2 separate regions of the Homo sapiens genome follow, and region 2 is linked to region 1. Evidence: fine-mapped expression QTL. A gene starts in region 1. The other region holds a variant in brackets. All regions are shown on one strand. Distances are between the middles of the regions.

Region 1 (4,503 bases):
CCAGCAGGGGGAGGGACGGGCAGGGTGGGTGGGGGGACCGGCGGTGGGGAGGGATGGGCAGGGTGGGTAGGGGGACCGGCGGCGGGGGGGGTAGCCACACACAGGCCAAGGCGTGGGAGTGACCCCAAGGACACAGCAGTGGTCCAGTGAGCGCGGACACGGAGCCCGAGGCAGTCCCTGGTGCAGGGAAGCGGTGAAACAGGACTTCGGCTTTGATGATACCTTGGCTGAGGTGACCTTGAGAATATACCCAGGTACAGATTGCGGGTAATTGAAGCCACATGAAAGATCAGAAAGATCAGATGTCCAGAGAGTGGGCAGAACAGGCAGCCAAGAGGCCAAATGGGAAAGGGGCAGGCTGGGAGGACCCCACGGAGGACCCAGAGAGCAGGGGAGGGCAGTGGGGCCCATGCAAACAGCTGCAAAATGCCATGGGGTGTGCACAGGCCAGGGGTGTTCACAGCACAGTGTCCACACCGGGGCGGGGGGCACCCTCCGAGGAAGCGCTCACGCCATGGGGGAGGACATGGAATCCCGTCCTGGTGTCTGTGCTGGAAGGTGCCCTCGACCCCCTGCCCGGTGGAAGGACCAGGTTCCAGGACAGCACAGGGCAGGCACCTGTGGAAAACGCTAAGGACATCAGGATGACTGGCCACCAACACCATGTCCCTCCAGCTGTTTCTGAGACCCTGGATTTTGACTAATTTTTTCCTTCTTCACATCGTTCTATACTGTTACGACTTTGACTTTCTTTTGAGACATGGTTTTGCTGTCACCCAGGCTGGAGTGCAGTGGCACAATCATGGCTCACTGCAGCCTCAACCTCCTGGGCTCAAGCAATCCTCACAACTCAGCCTCCCAAGTAGCTTGAACCACAGGCACACACCACCACGCCCTGCCAATTTTAGCATTTTTTTTTTTTGGAGTGATGGGGTCTTGCCATGTTGGCTAGGTTGGTCTTGAACTCCTGGGCTCAAGCGATCCTCCCACCTCTGCCTTCCAAAGTGCTGTGATTGCAGGCGTGAGCCACAGTGCCCAGACTGTCAGGACTTTTAGGAGTACATATTTGCGTTTTTTGCTATTTTTTTCAGTGTTGCAGAAATCAGGTAGAACAAGAGCTAAAGTGAGAGTTGATTGTAACTCGGGCGTGAGCACACAGAGTGGTGGACAGAAAGCAAGACGTGAGGAGGCAGAAGCGGGGCTGGGGGGCTGAGGGGCTTGCGGGGTTAAGGGGCTTGGGGGCTGGGGGACTGGGGGGCTGAGGGGCTGGGGGGCTGAGGGTCTGGGGGTCTGCTGGGCTGAGGGGCTGGGGGACTGAGGGGCTGGGGGACTGAGGGTCTGCTGGGCTGAGGGTCTGGGGGACTGGAGCGCTGGGGGGCTGGGGGGCTGAGGGACTGAGGGGCTGAGGGGCTGGGAGGCTGAGAGGCTGGGGAGCTGGGGGGCTGAGGGTCTGCGGGGCTGAGGGGCTGGGGGGCTGGGGGGCTGAGGGGCTGGGGGGCTGAGGGGCTGGGAGGCTGAGAGGCTGGGGAGCTGGGGGGCTGAGGGTCTGCGGGGCTGAGGGGCTAAGGGACTGAAGGGCTGGTAGGGCTGGAGGCGGCAGCGCGCGGCACGGGGAGGTCAAGGCACCGACGAAAGCGCACAGCGAGCGCGAAGGCCCCGCGGCCCCATCTGCGACGTCCCCTCACGGCCGCCTGAACCTCGGGGCTCGCGTTCTCGCGTCACTGCCGGAGGCCCGGGGTGCAGGGACTAGGCCGCCTCTCGGCTCCCACCAGGGCCCGCGCGGGGAGGAGACCGGAGGACGCCCGCGGCGCGCACCTGGCTCCACGAGAAACGGGAGGGAGCGGGGCGCCCAGCCCGCCCGGAGCCGCATACGGAGCCCACCCCACAGCCCTCCCGGCGGCTCCCACTCACCCAAGGGCGTGACTCTGATCTCAGGCATCGTCTCCGCCGCGCTCCCGGACCCGCGAGGCCCGCCTGCGGTGATGCACTGCGCAGGCGCAACCACCTCGCTGCAACTTCCGGTGCGCTAGCCGGAAACGCGGGTCGGGGCGCCGGGCCTCCTGATTGGGCAGCATCCAACCAATCAGGGCGGCGGGCGAGGGCGGGGCGAGGGCGGGGCGGTGGGCGGGGACGGGGCCCGCACGGCGGCTACGGCCTAGGTGAGCGGCTCGGACTCGGCGGCCGCACCTGCCCAACCCAACCCGCACGGTCCGGAAGTCGCCGAGGGGCCGGGAGCGGGAGGGGACGTCGTCCTAGAGGGCCGGAGCGGGCGGGCGGCCGAGGACCCGGCTCCCGCGCAGGACGGAGCCGTGGCTCAGGTCGGCCCCTCCCCAACACCACCCCGGGCCTCCGCCCCTTCCTGGGCCTCTCGGTGGAGCAGGGACCCGAACCGGTGCCCATCCAGTCCGGTGCCATCTGAAGCCCCCTTCCCAGGTGAGACTCGTAGCGCTCGCTCGACAGGGTCTGGTCCCACCCACAAGGCCTGGGGCGCCGTGGGGCCCCGTCTCCTGCTGGCCCCCCAGCCTGCTGTCAGCCCCCGTGCTCTGTGCTCAGGCCGCCCTCGCGCCCGGCCCTGACCTTGGGCCGTTGGGCTGCCCTGGGAAAGGCCTGGAGGTGTCCTGGGTCACCTTCCTGGGCTGGCAAGCTGCCTGCCTCCTGCACAGCCACTGCCCTTCCTGTTGTTACCGAGCCACCAGCCACAGCTCTGAGAAGCTCCTGGCAGCTTCTGTTTGCCACTGGCTCGAATCTGGGCAGGAAGGCAAGGCCCGCAGAATATCTGGTGACCAAGAAGGAAACCCCAGAGCCTCAGAGACCATCTTCTCAGTGGACAAAATTAAGGCCCGAGGAGGGGAGGGGCGTGCTGGAAGTCTATGGGACTGCATCTTTCTGAGGCCCAGGAGCAGCCATCCCCCACACCTGAAGCCCGGTGAGCTCACATCTGGGGCCTCCGCCTGGTGCCAAGCATGCAACCCAACCTGTGGGGCCTGCAACGCCAGGCTTCAGCACCCTGCAGGCACCAGTGCTCCAGCAGCCTGGGCCACGGGCTGGGCAGGGCTTGCAGCCCATGATCCCTAGTGATGAAGGGCCCAGTCCTAGGGTGCTGAGCAACCTGCCCACCTGCTCCTGGCCAGGAGCTCTCACCACGGCTGGGTGCCCTTCCCCCTCCCCCACCGATGGAGTCCCTGCAGCCAGGGAGGCCAGGACAGGGCTCCCAGCACCAACCGGCCTAGGAACCCCCAGGCCCTCTTCCTGGTCGAGGTGGAATGCAGCTGACTCTCAGGTTCCCCAGAGCAGGTGCGGGCCCGTGGGGCACCCGGGGAGACAGGGCAAGGGTGCTTGGCAACACTCACACAAAGCATGGGTGCCTGGATGTCTGTGGATCTGTGGAGTGACTATGTGAATGCCAGCAGAATCCAAAGCAGGGCCTGGGCCACTCGTGGAAGGCTCCCTAGGGCTAGTACAAGAGCCTCGTGGCAATCTTCTGAGTGGTAAAACCCATCTGTGTGGGACATGGAGTTTCAGCAACAGGAGTGAAAACACGTGTCCATCCATCCAGCAAGTGCCAGCCCTACAGCCTCTTTTCTGCTTTTGGGGATGTAGCAGTGAGGAAGATGGGGCAGCCTGCCCGGCAGCATCCCCCCACCCCCGGCCCCACCTGTCTCTGCTTTCTGCTGTGTCTGTTTTCTTGTCTAGGACTTCAGAACTTCCTGTCTTTGTTGTCATCTGACCCCACCCCAGATGGCTGCTCGCACTCCCCATGCACCCAGATAGATGGCTAGGATGGTGCTTGGCTCTCGGCAGGGGCTTAGTATTTCTCCAGCTGGTAAAAGCAGATACAGCATCTAGAGAGAGAAACAAAAACAAGAAAGCACCAGCAGAGACACCTGCTGCAGACAGCGGGGCCTAGTGGTCTGATAAAGCCAGAGGGGGCCACTCTCGGGGTCAGGGACTGACACGGAGTCAGTGGCCTGATCCACAGGAGGGGCTGTGCCAAGGTCCCTGAATGCGCAATCCTGATGAAGGGTGGGTCAGGGTGGTGTGCCTGAGAGCCTGCGGCTTGGCTGGGAGCAGAGCCAGGCAGCTCCTGGGAGGAAGCTCCATGAGGGGCATGAGTGTTCAGTGAGCGGCAATGGGATCGCAGCTATTTTGTTCCCCTCCACACACAGAAAATGAGCCACAGAGCAAGCTGACCCCAGCGACACAGCCCCCCAGCCCTACTGTATTTCCGTTCCTATCAAAAAATGGATGACTCGGAGACAGGTTTCAATCTGAAAGTCGTCCTGGTCAGTTTCAAGCAGTGTCTCGATGAGAAGGAAGAGGTCTTGCTGGACCCCTACATTGCCAGCTGGAAGGGCCTGGTCAGGTGCGTGTGCCAGGGCTGCCTCCTGAGGTGGGCGCTCCCCTGGCCCGAGTCCCATATGTGGCATCTGCCTCCCGACTGCCTGTCCCCACCAGCTTTGCTGCCCGTTTCCAGATGGGTGTGAGCCCCCGCAGGCTGGGCAG
Region 2 (4,000 bases), 42 kb before region 1:
TTACCTGTGGCCCGGCCACCTCAGCGGCCCAAGGAGGTGAGCTCACAGCCATGCTCGGTCAATGGGGCCTGGCCGTCTTTCCTGGGAGAGAGCAGAGGCATGGGCCCAAAGGGAGCCAGGGATGCCTGCCCGTCCCTTCTCTCATTCAGGCTCACCTGGTCATGGTGCAGTGACCACAGGACCCCCACATGCCGGGAGCTGGGTTCGCCCCACCCCACCCCCTGCACCGGGCCAGCGAGGGGATGGCCCAGAAGAGGGGGAGGACCATGTGGATTCACCAGTGCTGGACATGTGCTCTGTGGCTACCCCCTCTGCCTACTCTCTGGCCCGATACAGGGGTGTGGGACAGGTGACTGAACCTCAGCCCTTAGAGGCCTTGCCCGGGAGGAGGGGAGGGGGGTGGAGCCGGGAGCTGCGTGATCCAGCCGAGATGTGCTCTGACTGAGGCCCTGCAGGGCATACGGGTCATGGAAGGGGTGCTCTGCCCCCGGCCAGGGCTCCCCCTCCTACAGGAAGCCGGGGGCCTTGCTCCTGCAAGCTGCCCTTTGGCTGGACCGGGCCCCACTGGCCGGACCTGGGCTCTTTCTCTCTCTGCACCCTGCACCAAGGCTGGGCTGTCTGCCAGGCCACTCCCGGGGACACAGGGAGGCACAGGCTGCTTCCAGCCACAATCTCTGGCAAGCACCTAGGACCTTGTCCCCGCCTGCCAAGTAGCCGCCCGGGCCATGTGTGCCCTGTCTCCTCGGCAGGTGCGGCCCACGCACAAAGCTGCCCAGATGTGGTGGGGGAGAAGCCCCAGGCCTGTGCTGTGTCCGGGGGCCCTGCCGCTGACCTGTGGGGTCTCTGTGACATCAGCAAGCCCCCTGCCGCGAGCTTGGAGAGGCACCCCAGCCCCATCTGGCACTCAAGGAAATCAGCTCAGAGAGGTTGAGTAACTCGGGAAGGCCACACAGCCAGTGACGAAGCTGTGATTCACACAGGCCTGGGTGACTCCAGCATGGCTTTCCTCTCCAGGACGTCACCGGTGGCAGCTGCTTCCTTCCAGAGCCGGCAGGCAGGTGACCTCACCCTCCTCAGAGCCATGGCTCTGCTGCTGGACCCTGTGGGGCTGGGCTCCCCCAGCCAAGCCCAGGGACCCAGCACCACTTGGGGCAGGATGTCAGGAACACAGAGCCTACCCTTCCAACCTGGGCCCGGCTCGGGTCTGGTCATTTGGGACAGTGAGGCCACCTGGATATCTAGGGTCCCACAGTAGACAGGGATGGGGTGGTCCTGGGGGACAGGGACACCTGCCTTCCACACAACCGCACTGGGGCTGAAGACGCCAGCCTGGGAGACTGTGATTTGGACCCTGACAGTAGCATGTGGTCTTAGCATGTGTGAGGTCTTAGCGTGTGTGGTCTTAGTGTGTGTGAGGTCGTAGCGTGTGTGAGGTATTAGCATACGTGTGTGGTCTTAGCATGTGTGGGGTCTTAGTGTGTTGTGAATCACTTTCTTTTTTTTTTTTTTGAGACGGAGTCTTGCTCTGTCGCCCAGGCTGGAGTGCAGTGGCACGATCTCGGCTCACTGCAAGCTCCGCCTCCTGGGTTCACACCATTCTCCTGCCTCAGCCTCCCCAGTAGCTGGGACTACAGGTGCCTGCCACCGCGCCCACCTAATTTTTTGTATTTTTAGTAGAGACGGGGTTTCACCGTGTTAGGCAGGATGGTCTCAAACTCCTGACCTTGTGATCCGCCCGCCTCGGCCTCCCAAAGTGCTGAGATTACAGGCGTGAGCCACCGCGCCTGGTGGTCGTGAGTCACTTCCATGTGTGCCAGCATCTTGGTGTGTGTGGTGTGGGTGTGGACTGAAAGTCTTAGTGTGTGGCGCGTCATCTTAGTGTGTGGTGTGGTTGGTGGCAGCTATAGTGTCCAGCAGGGAGGGCGAGCCCCTGTGCCTACTCGGGGGAGCAGGTGCCTTCTCCACACCCAGACCCTTGGTGTTCCCACATTAGCACCTGTCCCAATGGCTGGGCGGCTGGTCCCGAGAGACACTGGATCTGGGAGCTGAGGTCCCCACCCAGTGTCTGTCAGCCAGGGAAGGGAGGGAGTGCTGGGAGCCCACCACGGCCCCGGATCTGAGTTCCAGGAGCTGGCAGAGAAAGATGGGGCTTCTGGGC[C/T]GGGCACGGTGGCTCACGCCTGTAATCCTAGCACTTCGGGAGGCTAAGGCGGGCGGATCACCTGAGGTTGGGAGTTTGAGACCAGCCTGAGCAGCATGGAGAAACCCCATCTCTACTAAAAATACAAAATTAGCCTGGGATGGTGGCAGGTGCCCGTAATCCCAGCTACTCAGGAGGCTGAAGCAGGAGAATTGCTTCAACTCGGGAGGTGGAGCTTGCAGTGAGCCTAGATCGTGCCATTGCACTCCAACCTGGGCAACAAGAGTGAGACTCCATCTCAAGAAAAGAAAGAAAGAAAGATGGGGCTTCCAAGGAGGTCTCAGCCCAACACTGTCCTCCCCCTCCCTCCACAGGCTGCAGCCCCTTACTCTCAGCCAGGGTCAGGACCCCAGGCCTCCCCTGCAGGGCTCAGGATGGGAAAGATTTCACCTGCAGAGGGATGGGCATCTCTGTCCCCCAGGAATTCCCCTTTTGGGTCCGGGGCAGGTGTGGCTGCCCTGGCTGGGTCCTCCCTCGCCTGCAGCACAGTCCCACGCCCAGCCAGCCTGTTTTAAATAGGAGGCCAGAGGCTCCATCCTGCTTCAGAGCTGCCAGCTGCCCCCGCAATGGCTGAGCACCGAAGCATGGACGGGAGAATGGAAGCAGCCACACGGGGGGGCTCTCACCTCCAGGTACCGTGGGGGGGGGTGAGGGGGGTGGGGGGGTTGGGTGAGGGGGGTGGGGTCGGGGGGGGGGTTGAGTGAGGGGGGTGGGGGGGTTGGGGGGGTTGGGTGAGGGGGTTGGGGGGGTTGGATGAGGGGGTTGGGGTTGGGGGGCCCCACCTCAAGGTACCAAGGTGGTGGTTGGGGTTGGGGGGACCCGCCTCGAGGTACCGTGGGGGGATTGGGGTGGGGGGTAGGGGTGGGGGGGTGGGGCTGGCGGGGGGGCTCCCACCTTGAGGTACCAGGGGCTGGGTTGGGGGGTCTCTTTCCGATGCCTGGCCCCGTGTGCCATCAGGAACAGGATTGCATGGTGGCAATGGGGCAGGTCATCCCTGAGTGCCTCCTTATCCTGAAGAAGGCTGTGTCCCATTGCGGGTACATAGTGTGTGCTGGACCACTGGGGGTGCCGAGCGTGTGCTGGACCACGGGGGGTGCACAGCGTGTGCTGGACCACGGGGGGTGCCGAGCGTGTGCTGGACCACGGGGGGTGCCGAGCGTGTGCTGGACCACTGGGGGTGCACAGTGTGTGCTGGACCATTGGGGGTGCATAGCGTGTGCTGGACAGACCCCGGGAGAACACTGCAGATACTGCGTGTCCAGGCGCTGTGCATCCCGTGGGTTGGCCACATGGCACGACGCAGATCCAGACAGGGTGGAGAGGCCAGTGTAGTCCTGTCTCACACACACGCGCACATGCAGGGTGGGGTCCGGCTCCTCTCTGACCAGGGGTCCAGGCCCTGCCTCACTCAGAAGCCCTGGGGACCCTGACTGGCCCTCCAGACCCCAATCCACAGCTCCCGCTTCTGCTGGCCTGGCAGCCCCCACTAGGGGGATGGTGCTGCCCTGTCTATGCGCCAGGTGGAGACGAGGAGTGGGGACTGGAGTCACAAAGACCCTTCCGAGCCTCTTAGCCTCCCTGCTCAGATGGCCTTGGGGACGCAGGGTGAGCAGAGCCATGTGCCCAGTGGTGGAGCTCCTGGCCAGGCTGCCTGGAGGCCTGTGCGGCCCACACACCCGAGGGGAGCCGTCCCCACCTGGTGTCCCCAGGCCCCGAAGCTTCTGGCTCGCTCTAGCACCTCCCCAGAGTACCTCGGAGCAGGCTTGGGCAGCGGGACAGCCTCGCAGACCAGAGCTAGGCCTG

What was found. PIP is the estimated chance that this variant, and not a neighbour inherited with it, causes the effect.
Region 2: its variant is fine-mapped to the expression of CPTP in whole blood (TOPMed, PIP 0.93).

Annotation. Positions count from the first base shown.
Region 1 is chr1:1,322,670-1,327,172 of GRCh38, forward strand. CPTP (ceramide-1-phosphate transfer protein) reads left to right here and starts at 2,133. Exons shown (of 3, transcript NM_001029885.2): 1 at 2,133-2,433; 2 at 4,167-4,363. The coding sequence starts at 4,242. INTS11 (integrator complex subunit 11) reads right to left here and starts at 1,991. Exons shown (of 17, transcript NM_017871.6): 1 at 1,912-1,991. The coding sequence starts at 1,939. RefSeq lists an enhancer at 452-961 and silencers at 1,780-1,909, 2,090-2,589.
Region 2 is chr1:1,281,262-1,285,261 of GRCh38, forward strand. It overlaps SCNN1D (sodium channel epithelial 1 subunit delta), which reads left to right. Exons shown (of 18, transcript NM_001130413.4): 2 at 1-36; 3 at 150-349; 4 at 981-1,054; 5 at 2,717-2,829. Among named protein-coding and RNA genes, the nearest start is that of SCNN1D, 2.8 kb to the left of the region's middle. RefSeq lists a silencer at 1,899-2,099. The variant C/T (reference allele first, on the strand shown) is at 2,159.